Regions from separate parts of the Homo sapiens genome. Here regions 1 and 3 are each linked to region 2. The links come from fine-mapping of genetic effects on gene expression. A gene starts in region 2. Each other region holds a variant in brackets. All regions are shown on one strand. Distances are between the middles of the regions.

Region 1 (10,487 bases), 180 kb after region 2:
CAAAGTCCCCGAGCAGCTCAGATTTACTCGTTCCCTCCAATGACATGCAGGGCACTACGGGAAGCCACGGCACGTGGTTTTGCAACCTTCACAAAGCGTGAGAGTAGCCTGGGAGCTGTGTGTCTCTGCTGCTCTCTTTCATTCTGTTATCTTGTTTTCCTAAGCGGGGGTCACCAGGGACCACCACTATGGGCACAGCTGGGGGATACTGAGGACATTTGGGAGCCGATTACCTTTACTGTTTGTGAACAGTCCCCTGGCTTTGCTGAGAAATTCATGGCTACTCTCTTCGTATGGCTACAATTCTGATTTTAATCAATTTACTTCAAAAGGCACAGCAATCTTACGGGCTAATTTGGACTCTCTGTCCTAATTTTAAAATGTTCTTTAGCTAACAACTTTTATTTCTGTGTTTATGGGAGAAAATTTAGGGGGAACAGATATGTAGAAAGGAGAGTATAATAATTGCCTGTAATCCCAGCACCCAGGGATCGTGGCTGTTTTTTGTTTGTTTGTTTTTATATTTTTGTTTGTTTGTTTTGAGATGGACTCTCACTCTGTCACCCAGGCTGGAGTGCAGTGGTGCGATCTCTGCTCACTGCAACCTCCGCCTCCTAGGTTCAAGCAATTCTCTTGCCTCAGCCTCCCGAGTAGCTAGGACTACAGGCGCACACCACCACGCCTAGCTAATTTTTTGTATTTTTAGTAGAGGTGGGGTTTCACCGTGTTGCCCAGGCTGGTCGCGAACTCCTGAGCTTAGGCAATCCGCCCGCCTCGGCCTCCCAAAGTGCTGGGATTACAGACGTGAGCCACTGCGCCCGGCCATGGTTGTTTTTTTTTTAGCATCTGTCTACTAGATATCTAGTTTCTTTGTATGTCATATACATTTTTCTCTGATTTGTTTTTTAACGAAAAGTAATTCTATACATGGTTAAAAGAATTAATTGCACATAAATGCATACAATGGGAAGTCAGCGTCTGCTCTGTCTCCGAGTCCTCGTTCTTTTTGCCAGAGTGATCTGGACCCTTGGCGAGAGAAGCTCCATCCAGCTCTTCATGGATTCTCAGCATTATTATAGAATGTTTTGCATCTGGCTGTGGGATGACTTGCATTAATTACTTCTGCTAGGTTTGCACAGCAAGCCTGGGGCCTTGTCTGCTGCTGTGCTTCGTGGTCTGGGAATTTCAGGCTTCAGATTTCACAATGGGAGGTGGTGGAGTGACAGGGCCCCCTTGCAAGCTCAGCACCCCGTGAGTGATTTTCTAGGGGGCCGTGGAGAAAGTCTAGCTCCATTAGCTGAATGGCATTTTCCTCTCTGCTCCCAGAGGAGCTGTCCTCTGTGCAGGGGCTCTGAATGCTCAGGTGCTTCTCACTGCTCATGCTCACGCAACCCCGGAGGTCACGTGTGTGCTGCCTCTGACCTCAGGGGTTTATGGGCCGCAGACTTCCCAATGTCACGCTACTGTAGGGTGAATTCATCAGCCTTTGCCTTCCTGGTTTAAAAACTCTTGCAAAAATGCCAAATGGGTGTGACCTTTTCTTTCTTCTCCAACAGAAGCCTGGAATGGTCCCCCCTCCGCCGGGAGAAGAAAGCCAGACGGTCATCCTTCCACCTGGCTGGCAGAGCTACCTGTCGCCTCAGGGCCGGCGGTACTATGTCAACACGACCACCAATGGTGAGTCCCGCTCGGGGGAGAATCCTGCACCAACCCCCTGGCATTCTGGCTCTCTAGAGGGGCACGTTTTTTCTCCCTTCTTCGCCTCTCTGTTTGGGGGTTTTTTCTTCTTAAGTCTATGCTCAGGGGCTACAGTAAAGTCTTACTCCTCCCACTGTGCTGGGTGGTAGGGGTGCAAGTCTGGGTCTGTAGTTCTGGGAGTATCTTGGAAGGAAGGCTGCCCTTTATGGTTTGAGTCTTCCTTGGACCCTGACGTCCACCCTGGGTATCTGTGTTAAACCCAACCTGTTCGTCTGGGGCTGGGTTTTCTGAAGGGTGTCTCAAAAGGTTCTATGGTCAACAGCTGGCTTGAATAAAATGAACGAGGCAAAGTCACTGCATGATGTCTTGGAATTTTGAAGGTTTTAATGATCTTGAAGCTTCAATACAGGGGTTGCAAATGCGAGGTTTCCCTAATTTCACTACAACGTCATCTTTTTCCTTAAGTATCTCACTGGCTGGCATTTCTCCAGATGTTTTTTGGGAAATGCCGGGGGTGCTTATGGGTTATTTATCCCATCAAATAGTACAGGTTCCATGTGCATCTGAGTTGAATAGGACCACACCTCAATGACCCCAATAATTAGGGACCTCCCAGGCCTTCAAATGACCCCAGGATCCCCAGAAGTTTGCTGTGGATGGTTTATAAAAGGGGATGCACCACGTGGCAGGTTCTGTAACAAGGTGAGCAAAGGGCACTGTTGCAGGCTGTGGTCTTGGGCAGGGCAGGACAGGGTAAACCAGCTGAACAGAGCTGTGTCTTGACCTCCGTGACTCCCCAGAGAAATTGCCATGAGAGAACTGAGAGGATTTAAACCAAGGAAAGTTAGATTTAGTGGGAATCACAGACATGCGTTCCAAGGCAAAAGATGAAAATCGTACCCAAGTCCACTGCTGGCTCAGCCTTGGCCTCTCACTCCTCTGTGCCTGCCTGACTACATGACCACCCCTTCCCACCTGGGGGTATCGTTACTACAGCTGATGTTTATAAGCCTGCACCAGGAGGGGGTCCTAGTGACAGGGGAGCCAGCTACTGTTTAGCAGAGACACAAAGAAGGCAGCTGGTTTATTCGTATCCCCTGGCAACCTGACCTTCCACAGGCTCAAGAGGGGTGTTCTAGCGCAAGAGGTAATGAAGTTTCTAGGAAAAGGGAAGTAGGACTATTTCTGACCGTTCTAATCTTACACTTCCTCAAAACAAACACATGAACAGCTTTGCACTGTTACCGGAGACTTGAAATTTCAGAGGAGAGTGTGTCTATGTATGCAACACCCATCTGCCAAACACAGAATTTGGACCGTAGGATCATGAGATCATCAATTATTTGGGACAACATTGGATCCAAATTATTGGAAGGTCAGGTTGCTAGGGGATATGAATAATTTGGATCCGTTATTGTCCCAAATAAGCTACTCTATTGCAAAGGGGCATGGGGGGAAATGGCTTTCTGAATTTCAGCATCTTTATCTTTTTTTAAGTTAGAGACTAGTTTGTTTTCACGGTAAAAAATTCAGTAAGTACAAAATGATTTCAAATAAAAAATAATCCCCGGTCTCACCTTTTAAACATATGTATACTTATTCTTTTAAAATAAATTGGAAAATATTGTCTATGTTGTCCTTTAAGTTACTTTGACAGTGTATGTGGACATCTTTCTATACTTTGTACATTTCAGTCTAACCCATTCTTTTAAACAGCTGTGTAGTAATCCATCGCATGGGTATGCTATTAATTTCACCTGCACTCTATTAATTTAAGTCATATTTTATATCAATAGACAGTGTCTGGCAGCTTTTTTCTGGGACTCAGACTTTAGCAGATGCCACTGGTGACAGCTTTCTTATGGGTCCTGAGATATTGTGATCCCACAGAGGCTCCAGGCCAGGGGTCAGTGAACTTTTTCTGTAAAGGGCCAAGTAGTCAGTATGTAGGCTTTGAGGGTCACATGGTCTCCATCCCAGCCACTCAGCTTTACTGTTTCAGCATGAAAGCAGCCCTGGATGATAGGTAAACAAATGAGTGTAGCTGTGTTCCAATAAGACTTTATCTATGGATCCGAAAATAGGAATTTCAGATGACTTGTGTGTGTTATAAAATATCATCGTTCTGGCCAGGCATGGTGGCTCATGCCTGTAATCCCAGCACTTTGGGAGGCCGAGGCAGGTGGATCACTTGAGGTCAGGAGTTCCAGACAAGCCTGACCAACATGGTGAAACCCCGTCTCTACTAAAAATATCAAAATTATCCGGGTGTGGTGGCGGGCGCCTGTAGTCCCAGCTACCCGGGAGGCTGAGGCAGGAGAATCGCTTGAACGCGTGAGGTGGAAGTTGCAGTGAGCCGAGATCACGCCATTGCACTCCAGCCTGGTGACAGAGCAAGACTCCGTCTGT[C/G]TCAAGGAAAAAAAAAAAAAAAAGTGGAAGATGATTTTCGTTGGCAAGTTCACTGGGCCATATGATAGTTGGTTTGACCAGTTGGTCCCTTGGACCATAGCTGCTGGTCCCTGCTTCAGGCTGTCTGTTGGCTCCACAAGGACTTGTCCTATTTGCCCTTCCTCTCTTTATTTATTTATTTATTTATTTATTTATTTATTTATTTATTTATTTTTTTAGACAGGGTCTCACTCTGTTGCCCAGGCTAGAGTACAGTGGCACAATCATGGCTCACTGCAGCCTCAACCTCCTGGGCTCAAACACTCCTCCCATCTCAGCCCCCTGAGTAGCTGGGATTGCAGGCATGTGTCATCACGCCCGGCTGATTTCTTTATTTTTTTATATTTTTTATTTATTTGAGACAGGGTCTCACTCTGTTGCCCAGGCTAGAGTGCAGTGGCACGATCATGGCTCACTGCAGCGTTAACTTCCTGGGCTTAAGTGACCCTCCCACCTCAGCCTCCTGAGTAGCTGGGATTACAGGCATGTGCCACCACACCTGGCTTTTTGTATTATTATTATTATTATTATTATTATTATTATTATTATTATTATTTTTTGTAGAGATGTTTTGCCATGTTACCCAGGCTGGTCTTGAATTCTTGGCCTCAAGTAATCTACTGGCCTTGACCTTCCACAGTGTTGGGATTACACTATGCCTAAAAACAGTTTTTTTTGTTTTGTTTTTTTTTTTTTTTTTTTTTTGGTAGAGACAGGGTTTCAGTATGTTGCCTAGGCTGATCCCGAACTTCTGGCTTCTACTTCTGCTTCCCAAAGTGCTGAGATTATAGGCATGAGCCACCGTGCTCGGCTCTCTCCTCTTTTATGCTAAAAATAATTCCAGCACCTACCTTGGTCTTACATTCTAGATATATGCCAGTTTTATTCATTACTTGTTTAACTCTTTTTTTTTTTTTTTTTTTGAGACGGAGTCTCGCTCTTTCACCCAGGCTGGACTGCAGTGGCGCGATCTCGGCTCACTGCAAGCTCCGCCTCCCGGGTTCATGCCATTCTCCTGCCTCAGCCTCCCAAGTATCTGGGACTACAGGTGCCTGCCACCACACCTGGCTAATTTTTTGTATTTTTAGTAGAGATGGGGTTTCACCGTGTTAGCCAGGGTGGTCTCGATCTCCTGGCCTTGTGATCCGCCTGCCTCGGCCTCCCAAAGTACTGGCATTACAGGCGTGAGCCACCGTGCCCGACCTTAACTTATTGTTTATCTGTTTGATTGAATCATTCCTTCAACACATAGTTTGAGCCTCAAATATGTACCAGGCAGAGTGAGTCTTGGGATACTGGGGATTTAATAAGAACAAAGTCTCTGCCCTGCAAGTGTTTATCTTCTTATAGTGGGAACAGATTTTAAGTGAAAACCTATTTGATCAATCAGGAAAGGGTTGTGAAGCAGGAGTCCAGGGTGTTTTAAGAGCATGTCACAGAGAGACCCTGGGGAATCAGGGGAGGCTTCCTGGAGAAGGAAGCTGCAGGATGGGAAGGGTAAGGAAGGGCTAGGGGATGGGGAGTGTCTTACTGATGGCAAAGAGTCAGCTGTGTTTGTAGGGATCATGCAGCCCATGAACATCATATTAATAATTTTGCTCGGCAGTCTAAGGGAGAAGGAAAGCAGCTATCTTTCTGATTCTCCTCTGGAATCGTTTCTTAGACTTGTTTTGTTTGGCTGTAGGGATGTTTTAAATATATTTTAATCTGCCTGCCTTTCTGCAGGAAGGCATCTATGAGAATAGCCACTCATGTTTTTCTTACCTCCTGACTCCTGGAGGCACCTGAGCTTGTGCCTCCTCACTGCTGGGCCAGCTGCATCTATCTGCCTTTCTGCCTGGCCCCTTGCTTAAGCATCTTTGCTCTGTCGCTCTCCAGGTGGCATTTCATCCACATGCTAGCCCAGTGCCCAGAAAGTGCAGTCCCGGTTCTAAGCAGGCCATTCTTCTCTTCCTCTTTGTCTGTCTACCTTTCTTCCAGACGCTTCTAGTCTTTCTCCCTTAATCCCTAATCTCTTCTTTTCCAGAGGGTGCCTGGGGATAATAGGTGTTCTGTCCCCATTTTTACACCTATAACCAGTTGAAAGTCTAATTTACATTTGTATTACCTTGCCTTGGCTAATCTGCTTCTTTTCTTTTCTTTTCTTTTTTTTTTGAGACAGAGTCTCGCTCTGTCGCCAGACTGGAGTGCAGTGGTGCGATCTCGGCTCACTGAAACCTCCGCCTCCCCGGTTCAAGCGATTCTCTTGCCTCAGCCTCCTGAGTAGCTGGGATTACAGACATGCGCCACCACACCCAGCTATTTTTTTGTATTTTTAGTAGAGACAGGGTTTCACCATGTTGGCCAGCATGGTCTTGATTTCCTGACCTCATGATCCACCCCTCCTCAGCCTCCCAAAGTGCTGGGATTACAGGCGTGAGTCACCGCACCTGGCTGGCTAATCTGCTTATTTTCACATCCATTTAGGATTTTATGGATGAGGTTGTCACTGTGCTAGCCACTGAGCCGGGCTCTGGGGATCCAAAATCAAACTAGATGCTGTCTGTGATCTCAGAACCTGCAGTTCTAATAGGGCCAGAGACACATATAAACCTATAAGTGTTACAGGTATTCGTGTGGAAATCTGGGGGCTCGAGGAAGGGAGTAGTCAGCTTGATCTGGGTATTAACCAAGTCTTTGCAGGGGGAGGGGGCGGCCTTGACTCAGGCATTCCAAGCCAAGGTTACAGCATGAGTAAAGACCAGGCAGGAGAGAAAAACAGCGGATGTGTTTGGCATTGGTTAAGGAAGAAAGAGGTGAGAGAGAGAGTCAGGGGCCTTGGGGCATTTTGAGGAGTCAGGTCTTTATCCTGTAGGCAGCGGGAATCCATGGGAAATTTCCAGGCGGTGGCGTGACATGATCAGAATATTGTGGCAAGGCTGCTTGTGCGGCAGAGCGAAGGCTTTAAGGCCGGTAAGCGTGGAGGCCGACAGACTAAATGAGAGGAGAAATAATGAGGTCAAACACCAATTCTACAGCAGTGGCTGGAGAGGAGGAGGTAGAATCTGTCAGACAGGATGTGGCTGTGGCAGGTCAGGGATTGGAAGTGCCTGGATTCCTCCGGGTTTTCTGCCTTGTGTGATGGGACCATACAGTGAGTATAGGGTATTCAAGGGAGGAACAGGTTAGGAAGAAAGAAAAATGAGTCCATGCTGAGTGTGTGGTTCCCTGGGGTGCGTTCTGGGAGAGATGGCTGGCATTTGGATGGCTACGGTGTGACTTAGAGGACTTCTGAGCTAGAGATGGGAACTTGGTGAGCCATGTGGGTACATGGCCTGGCCACTGTTGCGCAGTGACCAACCTGCCCAGCCACAGAGGGTGGCCCAGGATTTGTGTTTCATCAGCAGAGAGGTGAAGTGATGAGGATGTAGAAGATCACCCGGGGCCTTGCAGCACAGGTGTAAGGCAGCAGCCAAGGAGACCTTGAAGGAATTGTCAGAGATACAAGGAATCCAGGAGAAGGTAATGTCATCAAAGGCAAGGGAGAATAGATAGGGAGGGGTAGTCAGGGACAGACTGAAATATAGATCAGGTTTATGATAAGAGTGTTGTTTTAAATCACTGGGGAAAGCATGGATTATTTAGTAAACGGCGTTGGGCCAGATGGCTAACAGGAAGTTTCAGTGGTTAATGCAGTAATGCCGTTGCTTTCATATAAACTTGCCAATGCCATCAGAGCATGCTCCGTGGACTTTGGGAAGTCCCCATCTTTCTTGTGGCTCTCTGGAAATTTCATCATGCAGAGTGGCCTTCAGTTCAGCCCCAGGAACTCCCAGGGTTTTGGTATCAGGAAATTGCTTGTCTTGTGCTGTCCAGGGAAGCTCTCCATTCCCACCAAAAGTTGCCTGTGTTGCTAACGGTTTGGGATAGTGAGCTATTATCAATAGCCTACCCCATCCAGGGACCTCAGCTAGTGTTAAGGAGACTGTCTTAGTCTGTGCAGGCTGCACTAACAAAAAGCCATAGACTGGATGACTTATAAACAATGGAAATTTATTTATCACAGTTCAGGAGGATGGGAAGTCCAGGATCAAGGTGCTGGCAGATTTGGTGTCGGGTGTGGGCCTGCTTTCTGGTTCATAAGAACAGCTGCATTCTGACGTGGTGGAAAGGACAAACAAGATCCTCTGGGTTTCTCTTTTTTTAATTTTTTTTTTTTTTTTTTTGAGACAGAGTCTCGGTCTGTCACCCAGGCTGGAGTGCAGTGGCACGATCTCGGCTCACTGCAACCTCCATCTCCTGGATTCAAGCGATTCTCCTGCCTCGGCCTCCCGAGTAGCTGGAACTATAAGTGCCCGCCACCACGCCCGGCTAATTTTTTGTATTTTTTAGTAGAGACGGGGTTTCACAGTGTTAGCCAGGATGGTCTCGATCTCCTGATCTCGTGATTCACCTGCCTCGGCCTCCCAAGGTGCTGGGATTACAGGCGTGAGCCACCGCGCCCTGCCTGGGTTTCTCTTTTAATGGCACTAACCCCATGATGGTGGAGCCTGCATGACTTAGTCACCTCCTAAAAGTGCCGCCGCTTCATACTGGCACATGGGGAATTAGGTTTCAACACGTGAATTTGGAGGGGACACAAACATTCAGACCACGACAGGGACCTCTTATTTATACAACAAATAATTATATTTCAAGAGATATAGCACAACATTTTTTGCTCCATTTATGATTGAAAGGTCGGCTGGGTGTGGTGGCTCTCACCTGTAATCCAGCACTTTGGGAAGCCGAGGTGGGCAGATCACTTGAGCCCAGGAGCTCAAGACCAGCCTGGGGACCATGGTGAAACCCCGTCTCTATTAAAAATACAAAAATTAGCCGGGTGTGGTGGCGCACACCTGTAGTCCCAGCTACTTGGGAGGCTGAGGTGGAAGGATCACTTGAGCCCAGGAGGCAGAGGTTGCAATGAACCGAAATCACACCATTGCTCTCCAGCCTGGGTGACAGAGCAAGCCACTGTCTCAAATAAATAAATAAAATAAAAATATAACTGGAAGGCCAGGCATGCATGCTTCTTCACTTAATATAGTCATAGGTATTCAGGCCCTCTTTTTGGAGAGATGCTGACCTTTTAGATATGTTTAGGATACATTTTACCATTTGGACATTAGGGATATTTGAAGCCAGTATAGATAGATGGCCAAGATTAGTTTAGTTTAATGTATTAGTCAAGATTTTACTTCTTATTTATTAATCTTTTTATACTCTAAATCCAGTAGTTTTATCTGTGCCATTCTTTTTTTTTAAACAAAGAGTACCATTTGAGATGGTATCTTTTGTTTTTTTTTTTTTTGAGATGGAGTTTCACTCTTGTTGCCCAAGCTGGAGTGCAATGGTGCAATCTCGGCCCACACAACCTCCACCTCCCAGGTTCAAGCGATTCTCCTGCCTCAGCCTCCCTAGTAGCTGGGACCACAGGCATGTGCCACCACGCCTGGCTAATTTTGTATTTTTAGTAGAGACGGGGTTTCTCCATGTTGGTCAGGCTGGTCTCGAACTTCCGACCTCAGGTGATCCACCCGCCTCGGCCTCCCAAAGTGCTGGGATTACAGGCATGAGCCACCGCACCCGGCCTTGAGATGGTATCTTAACCCTTTCTCCCCCACTATAAAGCAGAGCCTGATGCAAGGATTGAGTGTTAACACCTTATTTAGGAGGTATCAGTACAAAGTGGTGAGGGTAGGTATGCAAGGGAAGGAAAGCCAAAGAACAATGCCAAGTGATGCTGGCTGGTGTTTGACAGTGAAATGCAGAGTCCCAGCCGGTCACTTAGTGGATATGTTCACTTCTGGAAGGGCTGCAAGGAGGAGCCGTAGCCTGGAGTAGTCTGCAGGAAAGCAGAGATGTTTTATCTACTCACCTCTGTCTTGTCTCCTATTTCACACTGGCCAAGCCCCTCCCCTTGCACAGCTATTTCCCTACACATTTGGTTTGTACCATCTGACTCCTACCAAGCTCTCAGAAAGCCAGATTCCACCATGCAGAGTGATGCTTCATCCAAGCCCAAGGCAGTGGTCAGCAGAGCATGAGTGAGGTACCAAGCAAAACAGAAGGTGGCTGTTGATGGAACTATGAAGAGTCCAGTGCCTGTGTCCCTAGGCAGAGACTCTCCTAGAACTGAGTGCTGTGGTGAACATCTGTTTCCACCCTCAGACCTTGATAACTTGATCTTTCATAAAAGTGGGTTGCAGAGGCTAGTGATTTTGCTTCATAATCATCCTAGGAGGAAACTTCTAAATCCTCTAACTCAGGGGTTGGCAAACTGTGGCCTATGGGCCAAATTCAACTCACAGCTGTTTTTG
Region 2 (10,487 bases):
CACTATGTTGCCCAGGCTGGACTTGAGCTCCTGGCTTCAAGTGATCCTCGAACCTCAGCCTTCCAAAGCTTTGGAATTACAGGCATGAGCCACCATGCTCAGCCAGTATTCTTTATATAGCTGTCATAGTTATCTCTCTATCCCTAGGCCCAGCACACTGTCCATTTTCTAATATGTGTTTAACACCTCTTCGAGCTGTTGTTGAATGAAATAGCACACATGAGTTGAAAAAGATAACTCTTGTTGGGTGATGAAGATCATTATGAATTTTGATTTTTGCTCAACACTAACAATTTTTTGAGGTATAATTTATATGCCCCGAATTTTACTTGTTTTATGTGTACAGTTTCGTGACTTACTGTGTTGTGTGATCATTACCACAAACTAATTTTAGAACATTTACATCGCCTCAGAGAAACCTTGTGTTTGTTTCTTTCTTCCTTGTTTGCAGCTCCAACTCCAGGTGACCACTAATTTTTAAATTGTGTCTATGGATTTGCCTTTTCTGGACGTTGCATATAAATGGAATCATATAATACATTGCCTTTTGTGTCTGGCTTCTTTCACTTAGCACAATGTCTTTGAGGTTCATCCATGTTGTAGCGTGAATCAATATCTCCTTCTCATGGCTGAGTAAATATTCCATTGTATTGGCATACTACATCTTGTCTATCTATTCACCAGCTGATGGACATTTAGATTATTTCCACTGTTTGACTTCTGTGAATAATACTGCTATGAACATTCACTACAAGTTTTGTGTGGACATATGTTTTCATTTCTCTTAGGTAGATGCCTCGGAATAAATTGCTGGGTCATTAGGTAAATTTATATTTAACTTGCTTTTTCTTCCTTTTTCTTTTTTTTAGACAGGGGCTTGCACTGCTGCCCAGGCTGGAGTGCAGTTGTGTGGTCATGGCTCACTGCAGCCTCGATCTCCTAGGCTCAAGTGATCCTCCCACCTCAGCCTCCTGAGTAGCTGGGACCACAGGGATATGTCACCACGTCCTGTGGCTAAATTATTTTATTTATTTTCTATTTTATTTTATTTTTTGTAGAGACAGGGGTCTTACTATGTTGTCTGGGCTGGTCCTAAACTCTTGGCCTCAAGGGAACCCACAGCCTCAGCCTCTCAAAGCATTGGGATTACAGGTATGAGCGACCACGCCTGGCTATGTTTAACGTTGTAAAGAAATGGAAACCTTTCCATTTCTCTGCCATCCATAGGCTGATAGAAAGGTGTATAAGGTTGTCTTGGGTAGAAATGAAATACCAGCCACCACATAACTAACAAATGCACAGTGTCTAGAGAAAGCTCTGACACAGGTTTATACAACAACTTAGCAAGTAGAAAATCTAAATATGAACAGGGTCCAAACAATCTATGCAAAAGATCAAGAAGTACTGAATGCCTGCTTTTTGTATGAGTCAACGTTAGGCTTTAAGAAGGATAGATAGGCTAGGCATGGTGGCTCATGCCTGTAATCCCAGCACTTTGGTAGGCAGAGGTGGGTGGATCACCTGAGGTTAGGAGTTCGAGACCAGCCTGGCCAACAGGGCGAAACCCCATCTCTACTAAAAATACAACATTAGCCGGGCGTGGAGGCGCATGCCTGTAATCCCAGCCACTCAGGAGGCTGAGGCAGGAGAATCACTTGAACTTCGGAGGTGGAGGTTGCAGTGAGCCAAAATCATGCCATTGCACTGCAGCCTGGGTGACAAGAGTAAAACTCAGTCTAAAAAAAAAAAAGATAGATGGAAATTTAAAACAAAGATGCTATCCCTCTCCTGAGTTACTAACAGTCTAACCAGTAAAATAAGACTTAATAATAATTATTATTTTTTTAAAAAGCAAAAGTAGGCTAGGTGTGGTGGCTCACGCCTGTAATCTCAGCACTTTGGGAGGCCGAGGCGGGCAGATCACGAGGTCAGGAGATTGACACCTGCCTGGCTAACACGGTGAGACCCCGTCTCTACTAAAAATACAAAAAATTAGCCGGGCGTGGTGGCAGGCGCCTGTAGTCCCAGCTACTTGGGAGGCTGAGGCGGGAGAATGGCATGAACCCAGGAGGCGGAGCTTGCAGTGAGCCGAGATAGTGCCACTGCAGTCCAGCCTGGCTACAGAGCGAGACTCCATCTCAAAAAAAAAAAAAAAAAAAAAGCAAAAATAAATTAGCCAGGCATGGTGGTGTGCACCTGTAGTCCCAGCTAGCTTCTCTGGAGGCTGAGGTGGGAGGATGGCTTGAGACGCGAGGCAGAGGATGCAGTGAGCCAAGATCACACCATTGCACTCCAGTCTGGGCAATACAGCCAGATCTTGTCTCAATTTAAAAAAAAAAAAAGCAAAAATAATTAAAGATTTAAATACAATTTCAAGATAGTAATATAAATCAGAGAGGGAGAAGGCAGGAGGGAAAATTGATAAGGGAGGAATTTATCTTTCCTTCAAGATCCTGGGAGAAAACAGAAAGCCAAAGTGTGTTTCTACAAAATTTGTGGCATCCCAAAGATGTAAGAGTTCCTCCTTCTATTGTTGCTCTAGAAATCTTAGTTAAAAAAGAAGTGTTACGTAATAAATCACCAGGACCCTTGAACTGGATAGATAAAAACAATCGCTAACATAGGGGCATTTAATGTGCCAGGCACTGCTCTAAACAGTTTACATGCTTCCTCACTTAATCTTCTTAATAACTCTATGATATTAATACTACTGTTGTCTTCTTGTAGTGATGAGGAAAATGACGCTCAGAGACGTAAGTAAATCACCCAATGCCACACAGCTAGAAAGTGGCAGAAATGGGGTTTGAATAAAGGCAGTCCAGAGCCAACATATTTAACCACTAACTACATTTAACCATTTAAATTCCCATATTCCAGTTACTGGATTCGATCTCCAATTACAGACGGGGAAATAGACCCAAAGGTATGGGAAGACTTGAGGATTTGGAGGTTACCTGATTGATAAGAGATCAGCAACAGGAGTTCCACTAACTGCTAGTCCAGTCTTATTTCTATGAAGACTGACATTGGGTATCACCAGAGAGTCTTTTCTTTTCTTTTCTTTTCTTTTTTCTGAGATGGAGTCTTGCTCTGTCGCCAGGCTGGAGTACAGTGGCGTGATCTCGGCTCACTGCAACCTCCACCTTCCAGGTTCAAGCGATTCTCCTGCCTCAGCCTCCTGAGTAGCTGGGATTACAGGCACGCGGCACCACACCTAGCTAATTTTTGTATTTTTAGTAAAGATGGGGTTTCACCATGTTGGCCAGACTGGTCTCAATCTGCTGGCCTCGTGATCCGCCCGCCTTGGCCTCCCAAAGTGTGGGGATTACAGGCATAAGCTCTCACAGGCTGTGCCCAGCCTAGAGAACTTTCTCTTAAGATGCTATTTGTGGGTGAGTCACTAGGATACCTGCTTTCTGACTGGCAGGGGGGACGACAGAAAGCAACACCAGTGTACAATAAGCTAGAATTGAGTTCAAAGCTGATTCTGCTGTTGACCAGCTGTATGATGGTGAGCAAGTCACACTCTTTGAGCCCAGTTTCTTTACCTGAAAACTGGGACAACAGTCACCTCATCAGCTCGTAGGATTACAGGAATGAAATGAATTAAGTGGAGAAATTAACAGCTATTATCATTTTTGGTTGCTGCAGGAATGTTTGAGGTGGGTCAGGTAGAACTCAAGTGTATGGCATGCTGTGTAGGCTGCGATTTCTCAAGTCCAAACTGGATCACAGTTCCTCACGGGCATGCAGAGAATTAGGGTTGCAGGATGGCTGGAAATCAGTTGTCCTACCTTGATTCAGGCCACATCATCAGGAATGAAGCCTCAGAACAGCCTGCTGGAAGTCACATATTTTCCTGATACAAGGAATTGTATCTCTTTTAAAACTTCATTGGGCCAGCTATTTTTAATGACTGTTTTTGATATGAAGTTATGCAGCTCCGCTTTAAGGGACTCTTAGTGGTGACTGTGGTCAAGAGTTTGTTTCTTTATATTTCCGGCCAAGCGAATGTTCAAGACTTTGCAATTGATGGACTATTACAAATAATCTGCTTGTGTCACTTTGCCCATGGCCAGAGAACAGATGGAGGCTGCTCAGGTGAGATGGCTTAGCTGCAGACTAGGGCTCAGTAGTGACTCTTAAAACCTGGGCATGAGTATTTTTAAAAAGTTGCATAATGACTGTAATGTGCAGCCAGGATTGAGAACCATTGAACTAGGTGAAAGGCTCTGTGCCAGGGTCTGATTCAAAGCATAGACAGGTGCGCAAGATCTTCAGGCTCTTGGAGCCCGGCCTGACTGGTTTTGTAATGGATATCTAGGCAGTCATAGTAAGAGGTGAAGCTAGAGGAGGCGTTGTGGAGGGCCTGAAATGTACAGGCAGAGAAGTTTGTACCAAATTTAAAAGGCAATAGGGAGCCACAGAAGGTGACTGGGGGAGGGGGGAAGGAGTAGACAGAGGTATACAGGCGTATTAAAGGGTCCAGCTTTTTTTTTTTTTGAGACGGAGTTTCACCCTTGTTACCCAGGCTGGAATGCAGTGGTATGATCTCCGCCCACTGCAACTTCCACCTCCCGGGTTCAAGCCATTCTCCTGCCTCAGCCTCCTGAGTAGCTGGGATTACAGGCACCCGCCACCACGCCCGGCTAATTTTTGTATTTTTAGTGGAGATGGGGTTTCACCTTGTTGGCCAGGCTGGTCTTGAACTCCTGACCTCAAGTGAGCCATTCGCCTCAGCCTCCCAAAGTGCTGGGATTACAGGCGTGAGCCACCGCGCCTGGCCGAGTCCAGCTATTTACAGGCTAAAAAATGTACTTTATTTTATTTCTTTAAAATTTTTTATGGAGTAGACTAGCAAAGAAACCAAGCTTTCTTTTACTTCTGTACGGTCAGTTCAAGGTCAACATTCTGCAGCACTCAGGTTCACTGGTCCCTGGAGAGCAGGGACTGGCCCAAATGATGTTTGTAGTACCTGGCACATCGCATGGAACATGGCAGCCTCCTGGTAATGTTTGTTGACTGACTACATGAGTGTAGACTCTTTAGCCAACCCATCTCGATTTCGGGAGGGCTGGTACCCTGGGCCGGCCTTCCCTCTGCAAGTAAAAGCATTGGTGCTGTTCCTCTCACCGTTCGCCTTTCCTCCATTTATCCCCATCGACTGTTTCCAATTCTATCAACTCCGACCCCGTCTTCTCTCCATTCCGTCCCTCCAGCGTGCCACGCTGCCACCAGGCTGCTGGGCTCAGGCGCCAGGCTTCAAACCTGTCTTTCACCCATTGTTCAGTTTCCGGTGAGACAAGTTCAACCCCAGGTTCAACCACTACAATGACAACCACAAACGATCCCTCGCAGACACCTCGAAGAAGCCGCCCGCACGCCACGGGCCGCCAGGCCTACAAAGCAGGCACAGAACAGAGGGGCGTTTCCATTCCCGCGGTCCCCGGCGGTGGGGGCGCGAGTGGGAGCCCCTCTCCCCAGTGACAGGCCCCTCTGCGAGGGAGCGCGCAGCCCTCCGCGGGCGTGGCCGCCCTGGCCCCGCCCCGGCCCGCCCCCTCGCCAGTGAGCTAACCCCCGCCCGGCCACCCGGCCGCCAGCTCCTCTCCACGGCCGCCCGCCGCGGAGTCCTGCCGCGGGGGATGCTCCGGGTCCCACCTCCCGGGGGAGCTGCGCATTTCCGCGCGCCAGGGCGGCCCCGGCCCCGGTCCCGGCCCCGGCCCCGGCCAGCCCTCGCGGCGGCAGCCCGCGTTCCGCGTTCCCGGGAAGTTGTCTCCGGAGCCCGCGGCGCCTGGGTCTCCTCCCCCTGAGCCCCGCCCCCCAGCCCAGAGCTAGGATCCGCGAGCTGCCCGGCCCGGGGGCGTCGCCGCTCGCTCTGCGAAGCCAACGAGTCTCTGCTTCCCGGCGCGGAGCGCGCGTCCCCCGCCTGCCTGAGGACCCCCGCGCACCCCAGAGACGGCGCGCGCCCAGAGCGCGGGAGCCCGGAGCGCCGGGCGCCTGGGACCCCGCGGAGCCGCTGCCCAGCCCGTGGGGCTCGGCGGGAATGCAGGCTGCGCTGTGAACCCGGGCGCCAAGGCCATGTCCGGCGCTCGCTGCCGGACCCTGTACCCCTTCTCCGGGGAGCGGCACGGCCAGGGGCTGCGCTTCGCCGCGGGCGAGCTGATCACGCTGCTGCAGGTCCCGGACGGCGGCTGGTGGGAAGGCGAGAAGGAGGACGGGCTCCGTGGCTGGTTCCCGGCGAGCTACGTGCAGTTGCTGGAGGTAAGGGGCGAGGGCCGGGGCTGTAGGAGCCGGGGCTGCGGTCCTCGGTGCGCTCGCGTACCTGTTGCCCGTTCCGGGGATGCCGCAGCGTCCCGGTCGGAGGGGCGCCCCGGGGGGCAGCCCTTGCCGGCGCTACCTGTAGCTCCACGCTCCTGGGGGGCAGCGACGGCAGCGGGCGCCCCTCGGGGCGTGGGCAACGCGGACTCGCGGGGAGCTTCCACCTTGCGCCGGGCCTCCGGAGCACACCGTGGCTGCTCTGAGGAAGCGAGAACTTGTTGCCTGTGTGAGTTAAGGAGCAGGCGGGAGCGTTCCCGGCAGTGGCAGGGGCCGGTGAAGGGTCTGGCGGTCTTGGGAAGAGGCACGGAGGATCAGGGGTGCGAGAAAGTGGCACCGACTCGGTCCCGCAGCCCCGCGTCTCCACCCCGGAGTCTAGAGCCTGATGACCCGTGGACGGTCGTGCTGCCTTGGGTCAGGCTGCCTGGCCGCCTCGGGACCACCCACTTGCTGGTCAGCCGAGCCTGCTGGCCACCAGCCCGAGCCCCCTCAGCAGGCTTGATCCTGGGGTGCCGTAGCACCCCCCGCCACTGCCTGCTCCCCTGGTCCAGCTCCCCGAGGCTAAGGCTCAGAACCCGAAAGTGGCTTGTTCCTGGGGTTCTGGCCTGGCCCCAGGGCTGCACAGGACCTGCTGAGGCAAGGCGGCTGGCTGTTTATTGTCTATGTGACAGGCTGTCCTCTAATCACTGAGCTCGCAGTCACAGCCTGAGTGAGACCCGAAGTTTCTAAAGTCCTTTGTGTGTGGGGGGGTGACCTTCCAGGACATCCCCTTTACTAGAAGCCCGCCTGCCCCCAGGATTCTTGTAAAGACTAAATTAACAGTTACCTTCAATGGTGTCAGTATTCCTAAACATTCTGGTAAAACACTGCCGGAAGAAATCATGGAGGCTGAATTTATTTATTATTTAACTCTTGACCTACTTCACAGAGAAAGTAGCAAATTTTGACTGAGAATGCTCAGTGCAATTCATCGGGGGCGGGGGGAAGAAAGAAAGAAGTGAAATGGTTACAGGGTGAGTCCGCCTGAGGATGTATCCTGTGGCAACATTGTCAGCAAGAGCCTGGCCTTATAAAAGTACATTAGATTGCTTTCAGGTCCAGAGAACAACAAAATCTCTCCTAAAGGCATCAGTAGCATTTGAGCAAAGTTTAGGGGCTGCTGGAATGAGCTTTCATGGGCTGTCAGCAGAGTATGTTGCAGGAACCCTCTTGGTTCTGTATCTGGAGAATCCGGAGATACCCTACTTGTAGGAGAGGCTCAGGTGTGCCCTGCCCTGGCTTTTCCAGTTCCTTTCCCGAGATTCGGATGTAAAAGAAAGCGAACGTATTGCTTCTTACATGAGAAGCAAGGGGCCTCCTTGTTTCTAGCTTGAAGCCCTGGGATAGATACGTATTTTGGGAGTTCTTCGGGTGGTCACCCTTTTCCAGGAAATTCTGATGTGGAAATTTGGCTGATGGATGTCTGTCCGGTGAGGAGCATCCCTGGCTGGACTGAGCCAGCTGTGTTTTGTGTAGGGGTGAGGCTGGGTAGGTGTTAGTTAGCAAGAGTGGAGTGCTGCTTTTTCTTCCGGGAAAGGGACGATGGACCAGGGCCAGGGGACAAGCGGAATTAACAACTGGGACAGTTTTGGGTGTGTCTGTCCCATCCTCTGGCATATACAAAGGTAAGAGATCTCTGGTGTCTCAGGGCCTCTCAGACCATTCCTGACTAGTAACTTGCAACAGAAGCATCCATCTGCGTGAGCAATACTTCTGAGCACCTGCTTGGCACAGTGTGTGCACGTTATCACCAGTTCCCTGACAGCTCTGTGAAGGGTGAGGTACTTCCCCCATTTTATAGACAAGCAAGCTGAATATGAGAGAGGCGAAGTCAGCTCCCCAACTAGTAATGCTTGCGTGTTTTGTTAGCAGCTCAGATGACTGAGTATCACCCCCTGCGCCTGTGCCTTTTTTAAACATGATAGCCCGGGCTCAACTATGCCAAACAGCGTGTGAGCGAAGGGTCTGGATCCATGGGGAAAAGGGGCATGCGCAGCCCCTGAGGTCAGCATGTTGGTGACAGCACCGCGAAGGGGAGGCTGAACCTCTAGGGCTAAAACGAGGACAGCTGCATCCAGGAGCAACTTGGAGGATCTTCCCTGCTAACCCCAAAGTGTGACTTTACTCAGAACCAGCTGGGGGTCTTCCCACAGTGGGCCCGAGTCCTGTATCCTAAGTACTGGGTGGGACTCTTCTCAGGGCCAAAGCAGATGCAGTTTCAACAGGGGGGCATGTGGGTCAGGTGCTTGGCATCTGGGAACCTCCTACATGAGCAAGTTGGACCTCAAGGCTGAAGGCTAGGTAGAGATAGAGGACATGCAAGCAGAGTTGCTTGGGATGGGGTGAGTCCTGAAGGGCAGACTCAGAGAATGCAGAGGTCCCCAGGCTGGTGGGTAGACTGGCCAGCATCTGGACTCATGAGACTAGAGAGGGGGCCCATAGATACTGGAGATGGCGAACCTCATGAGATGTCAGCCAATGTGGTGCTGTCACTCAGCTTGCTTGGGAGCATGGAGTTCAGAAGGCCAGGGCAGCTGTTGGAGAAACAAGTACAGACAGATGGACTGTACTAGCCTCCTGGCCTAGGGATGGGATTGTGGGTACACAGATGAATATGGCATCTCTAATGTGCTCCCTACTCCAGCGGAACTTTCACCCTGATAGAAAGAGTGATACTAGGAAACCCCATCTTGGTGGAGGGGAGGGAGGCACTGAATACTGTGTGCACACTGGATACTTCCCAAGGAGATCTTCCTTGTTCAGATGAAGCAAGGGGAACCGAGAGACCCAGCCTTTGCAGGAAGCATACACGGGGGAGGGGAGTTGGGAGCTAACTCCAAGAGAGTCACCAGATCTGACCCAGTGGCCAGCTAGCCCTTGGGAGGAGGCCAGCTTGGAGGAGGTCTTGGTTTTTGGGGCAATCTCTTTGGTCAAGACTCCAAGGAAATGGTATAGCACATACTTGGCTTCCAGAGAGCAGCTTCCAGGAAAACCTCAGCACAGGCAGGGAAGTGTAGAGGTCTCTGGTAGGCCCAAGGACTCTGGCCACAAGGGTTCTTCCTACTCGGGGTGGTGCAGCTCTTCAAAGGATGGGCAGAGGGAAACACCTACCTCCAGAAAAGGAATAGGCCTTACAGCCAAGGCCCACAGCTGGTTATTAGATAAAATCAACTAGAAAAATCTTTCCTGAGGGTTTCTTCTGCTATGACGAGGGACAGGAATTAAGAAGTCTTTTTTTTTTTTTTTTTTTTTTTTTGAGACAGAGTCTCGCACTGTTGCTCAGGCTGGAGTGCAGTTGTATTTTGAGTAGAGGTGAGGTTTCGCCGTGTTAGCCAGCATGGTCTCGATCTCCTCACCTTGTGATCCACCCGCCTCGGCCTCCCAAAGTGCTGGGATTACAGGCGTGAGCCACTGTGCCCGGCCGAGAAGTCTTTTTAACATCATTTGAGAGATATGGTAGAGGAAGAGACCTGAGACCAGAGATAGGAGCTGTGGGAGCATGTTCTGCCAGCTCCAAGCTAGGCCTGAGATTGCCTCCATAGACCTGGGAACCCCACATGTGGGAATATTTCCACCAGCTTTCTAGGGTACATCAAGGCTGAGAAATAGCTCCTGGGGAAGGTGGATAGAGAATCCTAGATCTCCATCCTGGGGAAAATTTGGAGAGAAAGACATGGTACCAGGACAAGCCCAGTGGCTGGACAGGTCAGTGGTTGGAGGGTTTAATAGGGTCCAGGAATTCCTGTGGCCTGTACTTTCCTTGAATGGAGAGAAGAAATTAGGGACCTGGGGAATGTTGTAAGGCATCTACAAAACTTCCCAGAGCTTTTGGGAAATAATTCTGGGGGACAATGGGATTGGAATGCAAACAAAATAGAGCTTTCTTTGAACTAGGTGGTATTCTTAGAATCCAGGATCTGGCTGGATAATCTGGACCTTTTCTCTTTCCTAAAAAGAGCCTTTTCCTTTCTTTCTGGGTTACTAACAGAATATGACACTGTTTGCTGGCACAACTAGAATGGCTGCTGAGGGTCACCGTTAAACTTGATTTTCTTCACTCTACCCTTTGTTCTCCCATTTTGGGTTCATGCAGTTGTGCTGCAGGAGTTGATAAGGAGTGTCTGTGGGAGAGA
Region 3 (10,487 bases), 85 kb after region 2:
CTGGGCGTGAGAATAGTCAGGCAAAAGGAACCAAACTCGCCCAGCAGGTGCTTGGATCAGCACTGCCAGGAGAAGACAGCCTGAAGGACCCACTCGTTGAACTTGGTGCTTCTAAAGAAGATATGCTGGGTCTGAAGCATGGAATGTCAAGTTAGCTGAGGAGGCCTAACACCAGCAGGTGCTTTGGGGTGGCACCAGGCAAGTTCTAAGGACAGTGGGCAGCTTCTAGAGAAACCACTGAGTTGTGATTTCCTGTAGATGAGAAGACAGCAGTTCTAACTAACTCAGGGTGTGGTGTGTTGGGAGAGGAAGGAGGAGAGAAGTGGGCCTTGGACCTTAAACAAGAATCAAGGACACTCTTGGGAGCATCCCCCAGCTTGTTTAGCATGTTTCGTCATGATTGGCATGGTCGTAGGAATCCCCTGAGACATGCTCTTTTCTAACCTTTCTATAATTAGTTGTCTTAACCTCTGTCTCCTTAAATAAAATGTCAGCTTCATGAGAGCACTGAGGGCCTGGGCCAGGCCCACGGTGAGCACTCAGTAACTACTTAATGAAGGAATAAATCAATACAGTGAGCAGAAGAGCTAGAAAGATCTTTAGCAAGGGTAACATCTTGAACTCTCTAAAATTGCCACCCACACTCCAGTCTACCCTGAACTCCTGATTCCCTTTACCATGTTCTATTCCCCCGATCACCTTCTGACATTCTTTAGAATTCACTTTTTTATTGTGTTTAGTGTCTGCTCCCCGCAACCCATTCCCACCTCATGCTGGAGCCGTCACTCCAGGAAAGCAAGGGTTTATTTCCCTTCTGCTTTTTTCATTGATGTGCCCCCAGATACTTAGAAACAGCGCCTGGTGCATGGTATATGCTCCATAAGTATTTGTCAAATGAATGAATGGCTGAAAGTGCCCGGAAGGCACTCAGCAGTGCCATCTGTCCCTGGGGACAGATGTAAGAATCCTCTTACAGTGCATGTCACCATGTGGCATGTGTACGTTGTGCTGGTGTCCAGTGGGAGGGGAACACTTGCCTCCTCTGGGAGGTGCTGCACAGGCTGGCCACCTGCGCTGGGCCTGCTTGGTCCTCATGGTTAACTGGGCCCCGGGGGTAGGACCACCCCCCTGATAAGTTAAGACAGCCCAGAGATACACAAGGGCTTTTTTTTTTTTTTTTTTTTTTGGAGACAGAGTCTCACTCTGTCCCCCAGGCTGGAGTGCAATGGCGCAATCTCAGCTCACTGTAACCTCCGCCTCCTGGGTTCAAATGATTCTCCTGCCTCAGCCCCCAGGGTAGCTGGGACTACCTCCATCACACCTGGCTAATTTTTGTATTTTTAGTAGAGACGGGGTTTTACCGTGTTGGCCAGGCTGGCCTCAAACTCCGGACCTCAAGGGATCCACCAGCCTTGGCCTCCCAAAGTGTTGGGATTACAGGCGTGAGCCACTGCGCCCAGCCCACGAGGGCTTTTTGGAATTGACTGGCAGGGCAGTGAGGGCCCCCAGGGCAGGCCGGAGAGGCTGACCAGGTAGTGAGTGGAGCTGTTCACAGATGAGGATTTTGAGCCTGTGGTTGGGCTGCATTCCAGAATCCAGCTGTGCTCCCATGACTTCCTTCCCACCTTATGCGCTGTGAGAAGCGGAAAAATACCTGGCTGAGAAACCGAGGGCTCAGGCGATATCCCTGTTTACTCCATCTCTATCATCTTGTCTTGCAACGAGTGACTGACTTAGAAATGTAATCCGGGATGGTCTTGGCTGTCTCCACGCCCTGGAGAGCAACAGGGTCCTGGTGCTGCCTGTTACCCTCGGGGAAAAGTGCAGACCCAAGTAGGTCCAGCTGTGTCCTTGACATCTCCACTTGTCCTGTCCAGGACGCAGTTGCCTAGCCCAGGTCTGGGCTACAGTGGCTTCTCACAGCTCAGTAAATGGCTAGTTTGTCCTTCCAGCCGCTGGAGGCAAAAACCTTGACTCCCCTTTTTTTCTCACATTCCACATTCAGCATGTTGAGAATGCAGGTTGGCCCTTCTTGCAAAACAGATCTTTAAACACAGGATCACTTCTCACCACCCTACCACTGTAGCCTTGGACTGAGCCACAGCTGCCACCACAATGCTGCCGGGCTGTTGCAGGCGCCTCCTGGCTGCTCTGCTGGTCCCTAGTCTGTTGTTTTCACAGGAAGGGTCTGAACACATCGTGCTTCTGCTTACCACAGTCCAGTGGTGCCCCATGTCGGCAGAGTGAAGACGCGGAAGCCCTACAGTGGCTGATGAGGTGCTACATAATTGGGTCCCCATTGCTGTCCTGACCTCAGCACCTGCTCCTCCCCGTTGGTCTCACTCCTGTGTCACTCCTGCCTCTGTCCTCCGCCTTCCGTGGTGTTTCTTTAAATGTTCCAGGCATGCTTCCTCATCAGGGCCTTTGCAGCCCAACTCCCTGTGGGGGCTGAGTAATGGTCCCCTGAAGATGTCTACCTTCTAATCTCTGGAGCCTGTGAATATGTTACCTTCTGTGGCAGATGGGATTTTGCAGTTGTGATTAAGTTGAGAACCGGAGATGGGGAGATAATCCTGGATTATCCACGTGGGCCCAGTGTAAGCCAAGGGTCCTTATGAGAGGGAGGCAGGAGGGCCAGAATCAGTGTTAGGAGATGTGATGTTGGAAGCAAGAGGCTGAGTGACGAGAGGAAGGGGCCGAAAGCCAGGGAAAGTGGGTGGGCTCCAGAAGCTGAGAAAGGCAAAGAAATGGATTCTCTCCTAGAGCCTCCAGGAGGAACCAGCCAGCCCTGCAGACATCTTGACTTTAGCCCTGTGAAACCTGTTTCAGACTTTTGACCTCCAGAACTGTAAGATAATAAATTTTCATTGTTTGAAGCCCGTTAGTGTATGGGAATTTGTTACAGCAGCCTCAGGATATGAATAGACCTCTTTATCTCCTTTCAGTCTCTCACTCACTCTGGCAGGTCCACCCCTTTGCTCTGTTTTTTCTTTTCCCCCCCTCATCATTTATCACCTTCCAGCAAAACTGGATCATTGACCTGTCTGTCTGGCTTGTTGTGGGTTGTGTATCTCCCCTGCTAGAATGTAAGCTCCCTGAGGCATGGATCTTTGTCTTGTTAACTGATGTATCCCAGTGTCGAAACCTGCGTCTGGTGTATAAGAGGTGTTCAAGAAACCTGTGTCGAATAAATAAATGAATGAATATGAATGAATGATTCCTTGGTCTGGAATACCTTCTCTTCCCATTGTCTCTGCCAGCTGCCCTCTAAGTCCACTTCAGACCCACTCCCTACCCGCAAGAGCTCTCCTGTAAGTGACTTCCCTGGCAGGATGCGGCTGGTGCTATCTGCTGGTCACCTTTCCTGAGCACCCAGTGGCTGTGAGCAGCCCGGCCAGTTGCAGAGACCCGCTCAGCCCAGGGCACTCTTCTTCAGCTTGCATTCCCCGGGGTAAGCCCTGCAGCAGCCAGGTACTCTGGAGAGTATTCATTTTGTTCCATGCATTTCTTACAGATGAGCACTGTCAGAGTCTAAGGGACCCAGCTGATCTCTAAACCCAACATTTTTTTTTTTTTGAGGCAAGAGTCTCACTCTGTCCCCTAGGCTGGAGTGCAGTGGTACAATCTCAGCTCACTGCAACCTCCGCCTCCTGGGTTCAAGCAATTCTTCTCCTGCCTCAGCCTCCTGAGTAGCTGGGACCACAGGCACACGCCACCACACTCGGCTAATTTTTGTACTTTTAGTAGAGATGGGGTTTGGCCATGTTGGCCAGGCTGGTCTTGAACTCCTGACTTCAAATGATTCACTTCCCTTGTCTTCCCAAAGTGCTGGGATTACAGTCGTGAGCCACCATGGCCGGCCAACCCAACCTCATTTTGATGATGATCTGGAGAGGTGAGGGGTCCCACCAAGGTGCTGAGCAAATTTCTAGGGCTTCTAAGTCTCAGAAGTCCTGGTTGGATGATCTGTTTGGGAGAGCTCCTTCTCTCCACTGCCACCCCCAGGGACAGCGTGCCTCACTCGTAGAAGGTACTAAGAATTTGCCTGGATATTGGAGCTTTGGAATCTGTCATGGCTGGGGAGGTTGGTGAGTGGGGCACGGTTTTAAGGGAAGGTATAAGGTTCTCCCCAGGGACTAGGGGCGGGGGAGACCAAAGGATTTGTCTTGTTGTTAACAACAGTAGTATGGAGGATGGGGAGTTTGGAAAAAGGAAAGGAAGAAAAGACAAGAAATGGTAATAAGTATGGGCAAGAGTTGTGTGCCCACAATGGACACCTCATGCTAGGGGACCCCCAAGTGTATGGACACTGCCAAGAAGGGGCAAGGAGGGATGAGAGAGGCCTTCTCTGTGCTGAGGTGTGCTTCCCCGGGGCACAGCTGCAGCCTGTAAAGGGTGAACAGTTAGGAACACTTCTTTCTGCTGTCTTCTCTGGGGAGGACACGTGTTGCAACACTTCCTGAGTTGGGGAGGAGGTGACACTTTGCCCCCCACCCTCCTTCAGACTGCTGATGAAGTGTGCTTAGTTATGAACCTACAGCTGTGTTTTTGCAGCGTTCCCCCCGCCTGTGCACCCGCCAGTCCCACGGGGGGCTCCCCTCCCTCCTTCCGTCCCTGGTCCTTCCCTCTGCTGGCTGGTGACTCACTCAGCTCTTGTGCAACAGCCCAGGCTCTCGCTCAGAGAAGAGCTGTTTTCCTCCATCCCATAAGCCCCCGTCCTAATTTATGTCTTTTCATTTGGGTTAATGCTTTCCACATTTAGGTCTGGAGATTAGCGTGTGGCTCATTGATGCAACCACCAAAACCCCAGTGCCAGCTTGGGTCTGGCACAGAGAGGCAGCCAGCCAGCCAGCCAGACAGACAGACAGACAGAGGACAGCTTGGAGCATGACCCCCAGCCTGTTGGTCTGCAGCTGGCCCAGCCCTGCCAGCCACAGAGGCAGAGCGAGGAGGCAGCCCTGACTCCTGGCTTGCCAGAGAATCATTCTCATGCCAGTTTCCTGTGAAGGACACGCATCTTGGAATGGCGTGAAGAGGAGATTGCCCCAAGCCTGTGACTTCTCATTGAGGAAACTGTGTGTCGGGAAGTGAGAGGCACAAGTTCTAGGGTGTGGAAAAATGCGATCTCTGTGGCTTTCAAAGCTGTCACACAACACAGTGTGTGTGTGTGTGTGTGTGTGTGTGTGTGTGTGTGGTTTTTCTCTTCTCTTTAGAACAATAATATTACCTTTGTTGCTATGGTGTTGTTATGGGGGTGGCTAATTGGACACAGCCCTGATGCTGGCTGGTGTGTGGTGTCCATAGTGATTATCAGACGGCAGCCATGGGACCTGCTTTGATTTTCTTCCCTGGAGTGAGAAGCAGGCAGAGGATCACTCGGTGGCTGTGTATACCCTGCCTTTGGTGGTGGCACCCCAGTCAGAAACGGGACCCTGAAGCTGGGATTTAGGTAAGGGGAGGACCTTTCCAAGGCTTGTTTACAGCTCAGATTTGCAGAGGACCAGGTATTTGGGAACTCCTCTTCTGAAGAACCAGATTGCAGGGCAGGGCACAACGAGGGGCCTGTTGCATCTTGGGAGCACAGGGCTGTGTGCTCTGGTAACCTGGGCCCACTCACCTGGCAGGCACTGGCTTCCTTCCCAGTGAGACTGTAGCATTGACGGAAAAGTGCATGGTGGCTCATGCCTGTAATCTCAGCACTTTAAGAGGCTGAGGCAGGAGGATTTCTTGAGCCCAGGAGTTTGAGATCAGCCTGCGCAACATAGGGAGACCCCCATCTCTACAAAAAATAATGAAAGAAAAAAAAAGATTAGCCAGGCGTGGTGGTGCATGCCTGTAGCCCCAGCTACTCGGGAGGCTGAGGCAGGAAGATCACTTGAGCCCGGGAGGTTGAGGCTGCAGTGAGCTGTGATCACACCACTGCACTCCAGCCTGGGCAAGATAGCAAGACCCTATCTTGAGAAACAAAAGAGACAGAAGTATGTTTGGTCAGTATGTATACCCAAAAGTATATCTGTTAATTTTATACTTATCAAATAGGTAATATATGCTCAGGTCTGATATCTGAAAGGTACAAAAAACGTAGAGTGAAAAGTTGGTCTCCTTCCCATCCCTGTCCTCAACCTATCAGTTCCCTTCCCGAGTGGCAAACAAGTGATCAGTTTCTTGTGGGTACTTCCAGAAGTAGTCCAGGAATTTCCAAATATGTTTCATTTTATTTTCCTTAACCCAGGAAACCGTGTGTCGGGAAGTGAGAGGCACAAGTTGTAGGGGGCGGAAAAATGCGATCTCTGTGGTTTTCTGAACACAGGTATCCCCTCTATACTTCTGCACCTTGCTGGTGCTACTGATGCTTTTTGTTAAATCATATAACATATCTTGGAGTTTAGTCAATAGGAAGAGCTTCCTCCTCCTGTTTAATGCCTGCCCCACTCATTTCACCAATGGGCATAAAGGTTGCTTCTAATCTTTCTCTGTTACCTTTACCTGTTGCTGCTGT[G/T]GATAGCCTCGTATATCCATCATTCTGCACGTGGGTGAGGGTCTCTGAAGGGCAAGTTTCTGAGGTTGAAAGGTTGGAACAAAGAATATATGTGTTTGTAGTTTTGACAGAAAGGGCCAGATTGCCTCTAACAAGACTGTTCTAGCTTACACTTCTGCTAGCAGCGAGTAGGAGTGCCTGCTTTCCCATAGCCTTGCCAGCATCGTGCACTTTCAGATTTTTTTTTAATTTCTGCTTGGAAAAGTTTGTCTTTACTTTCTGTTGAATTTCTCTCCCATGGCTCCCCCACTCTATTGCAGCCTCCCATGCAGGCAGTGAGTGGATGGGGTCCCTCTCTGCTTCCCTGGGCCATAGGGAGTGGACCCTCAGAGGACCCTCTGTCTTGCAGATCGTTGGGTGGACTTGGTCTAGCCTCTCTGCAGGCCAGTCGGTTGTTTTACATATAGATCTTAAGGGAAAGAATCCTTTGCAACACTTGAATTTTCTACTTGTGATGACACTACTGGACTCTCTTTTCTCTTTTCTTTTTCTTTTTTTCTTTTCTTTTCTTTCTTTCCTTCCTTCCCTCTTTCTTCCTTTTCTCTCTCTTTTCTTTTCTTTCTTTCTCTTTCTCTCTTTCTTTCTTTCTTTTTTCTTTTCTTTGTTTGTTTTTGAGATGCAGTTTCACTCTCATGGCCCAGGCTGGAGTGCACTGGTATGATCTCAGCTCACCACAACCTCTGCCTCCCAGGTTCAAGCAATTCTCCTGCTGAATTCAGCCTCCTGAGTAGCTGGGATTACAGGCATGTGCCACCATGCCCGGCTAATTTTGTATTTTTAGTAGAGTTGGGGTTTCTCCATGTTGGTCAGGCTGGTCTCGAACTCCTCACCTCAGGTGATCCACCCACCTCAGCCTCTGAAAGTGCTGGGATTACAGGCGTGAGACACCGCGCCCGGCTAGACTCCATTTTCTACATGCTACTCCTATTATCTTTTCCTACTTCCCTCCTCTCTCTCATCTCCATCTGCCCTACCTTGCTCCTGCCTGAGTCTTCCTCTTGTTTTCCAGTGTTCTGTGTCTTCTGCCTCTCCCTTTCCAAAGATAGAGTCTTTTCAGTGAAAAGCCCCACACGTGGGCAAACACCCCTGGAAAGCATCCCTCGCTGTGTGTCTTCGGTCACGTGCTCGAGGATGCATCCACGGTGGAATTGGATGCAGTGACAGCATTTCTCTGCTCCCAGGCTTTTCTAAGTCAGGGAGCTGGAGGTGAAGCTGTAGCAAAGAATGCCTGGAGAGATGCCCTCAGGCAGCACAGCCCAGTAGAACTCTCTGAGGATGGCAATGTTCTACTTTTGTGACGCCCAGTACGGTAGCCACTAACATGTGGCTGGTGCAACTGCGGAAGTGGTTCTTTCATTTGGATTAATTTATATTGAGGGGCTGTATGTGTCCACTGACTACCATATGGGAGAGCACAGGTCTAAACTGTATGCTTTTAGCATGAAAATAAGAGTCTAAGAAGCAGAGTGTATCTGGTCTAGGTTTCCTCAAGTCGAAACACGGCAGCAGTTCTTCATCAGGGTATCCAGGCCCCATGACCTGGTCCAATTTTGGAACTCCCGAATTTCGCCTATTGGAAACACAATTGGGGTTAGGCTGCCAGACCCACCAAGGAGGGTCGCAATTCCCTTGGAATATAGGCCTCCCTTAAAGACTTATTTATTTATTTAGAGACGGAGTCTTGCCCTGTCTCCAGGCTGGAGTGCAGTGGCGTGATCTCGGCTCACTGTACCCTCTGCCTCCTGGGTTCAAGCGATTCTCCTGCCTCAGCCTCCCAAGTATATTTCTGGTTTTTTGTTTGTTTGTTTGTTTGTTTTTTTGAGACAGAGTCTCACTCTGTCACCCAGGCTGGAGTGCAGTGGCACAGTCTTGGCTCACTGCAACGTCCGCCTCCCGGGTTCATGCCATTCTCCTGCCTCAGCCTCCCAAGTAGCTGAGACTACAGGTGCACGACACCACGCCTGGCTATTATTTTGTATTTTTAATAGAGACGGGGTTTCACTGTGTTATCCAACATTGTCTCAATCTCCTTACCCATCATCCGCCCACCTCGGCCTCCCAAAGTTGTGGGATTACAGGCGTGAGCCATTGCGCCTGGCCATTTCTGTATTTTTAGTAGAGACGGGGTTTCACCATGTTGACCAGGCTGGTCTCGAACTCCTGACCTCAAAGGATCCTCCCATCTCAGCCTCCCAAACTGCTAGGATTACAGGTGCCAGCCAAGACACCCGGCCCCCTTAAGGACTTTTGATATCCATAGATGTACACAGCAGTTACTGACCTACAAGTTGTGGACACCAAAGCAAACTAGCCCTGTCTAAATAGAGCATCTTGTGTTATTTTACTTTTTAATCGACGCGTAATGTTTTACATATTTATGGGGTAGATGTGATATTTGGTTGCATGTATAGAATGTATAATAATTGATAAGTCAGGGTATTTGGGGTATCCATAACCTTAGCGTCAGTCATTGCTGTGTGTTGGGAACAAACATTCTTCTAGCTGTTTCAAAATGTGTGATATATTGTTGCTAACTATAATCCCTCTGCTCTGCTATCCAACTTTAGAACTTGTATCTTCTGGCTGGGCGCAGTGGCTCATGCCTGTAATCCCAGCACTTTGGGAGGCTGAGGCGGGCAGATCACTTGAGGTCAGGAGTTCGAGACCAGCCTGACCAATATGGTGAAACACCGTCTCTACTAAAAATACAAAAATCAGCCAGACGTGGTGACATGCACCTGTAGTCCCAACTACTTGGGAGGCTGAGGCTTAGACAGGAGAATTGGTTGAACCCGGGAGACGGAGGTTGCCGTGAGCCAAGATTGCGCCATTGCACTTCAGCCTGGGTGTCACAGCGAGACTCCGTCTTAAAAAAAAAGAAAAGAACTTATATCTTCTGTCTAACTGTATGTTTGTACCCCTTAACCAAACTCTCTTCATCCCCCCTCTTTCCCACACACCCTTCCTAGCCTCTAGTTAACTATCTACTCTCATCTCCACGAGAGCAACTTTTTTAGCTCCTACATATCAGTGAGAACACTGATCTTTGTCTTTCTATGCCTGGCTTATTTAACTTAACATAATAACCTCCAGTTCCGTTCATGTTGCTGCTAATGACATGATTTCTTTCTTTTTCATGCTGAATAGAATTCCACGGTGTATATATACCGCATTTTTTTATCCACTTGTCCATTGATGGACACTTAGGTTGATTCCATAATTTTGCTATTGTGAATCATGCTGCAGTAAACGTGTGAGTACAGGTATCTCTTTGATATCTTTTTTTTTTTTTTTTTTTTGAGACGGAGCCTTGCTGTGTCGCCCAGGCTGAAGTGCAATGGCACAATCTCGGCTCACTGCAACCTCCACCTCCCGGGTTCAAGTGATTCTCCTGCCTCATCCTCCCGAATAGCTGGGATTACAGGCGCCCACCACCACGCCCAGCTGATTTTTGTATTTTTAGTACAGAGGGGGTTTTACCACGTTGGCCAGGCTGGTCTCAAACTCCTGACCTCATGATCCACCCGCCTCTGCCTCCCAAAGTGCTGGGATTACAGGCGTGTACCACCGCGCCTGGCCCTGTTTTTGTATTTTTAAGTAGAGACGGAGTTTTGCTATGTTGGCCAGGCTGGTCTTGAACTCCTGATCTCAGGTGATCCACCTGCCTTGGCCTCCCAAAGTGTTGGAATTACAGGCGTGAGCCACTGCTCCTGGCCTGATGTCTTTTGATATCCTGATTTCTTTTTGTTTGGATAAATACCCAGCAGTGGGATTGCTGGATGGTATGGTTGTTCTATTTTTAGTTTTCTGAGAAGTCTCTGTACTGGTTTCCCCAGTGGCTGTACCAATTTGCATTCCCACCAGTAGTGTACAAGAGATCCCATCTTTCCTCATCCTTGGCAGTATCTGTTATTTTTTATCTTTTTAATGATATTTTTTATCTTTTTAA

The links. PIP is the estimated chance that this variant, and not a neighbour inherited with it, causes the effect.
Region 1: its variant is fine-mapped to the expression of GAS7 in lung (TOPMed, PIP 0.96).
Region 3: its variant is fine-mapped to the expression of GAS7 in whole blood (INTERVAL, PIP 0.99).

What each region holds. Positions count from the first base shown.
Region 1 is chr17:10,010,967-10,021,453 of GRCh38, reverse strand. It overlaps GAS7 (growth arrest specific 7), which reads left to right. Exons shown (of 14, transcript NM_201433.2): 2 at 1,557-1,677. Among named protein-coding and RNA genes, the nearest start is that of RCVRN, 110 kb to the right of the region's middle. The variant C/G (reference allele first, on the strand shown) is at 4,108.
Region 2 is chr17:10,193,982-10,204,468 of GRCh38, reverse strand. GAS7 (growth arrest specific 7) reads left to right here and starts at 5,863. Exons shown (of 14, transcript NM_201433.2): 1 at 5,863-6,261. The coding sequence starts at 6,079.
Region 3 is chr17:10,109,404-10,119,890 of GRCh38, reverse strand. All of the region lies in intron 1 of GAS7 (growth arrest specific 7), which reads left to right. Among named protein-coding and RNA genes, the nearest start is that of GAS7, 84 kb to the left of the region's middle. RefSeq lists enhancers at 1-331, 506-1,033, 1,564-2,093, 2,094-2,623 and a silencer at 4,578-4,637. The variant G/T (reference allele first, on the strand shown) is at 6,500.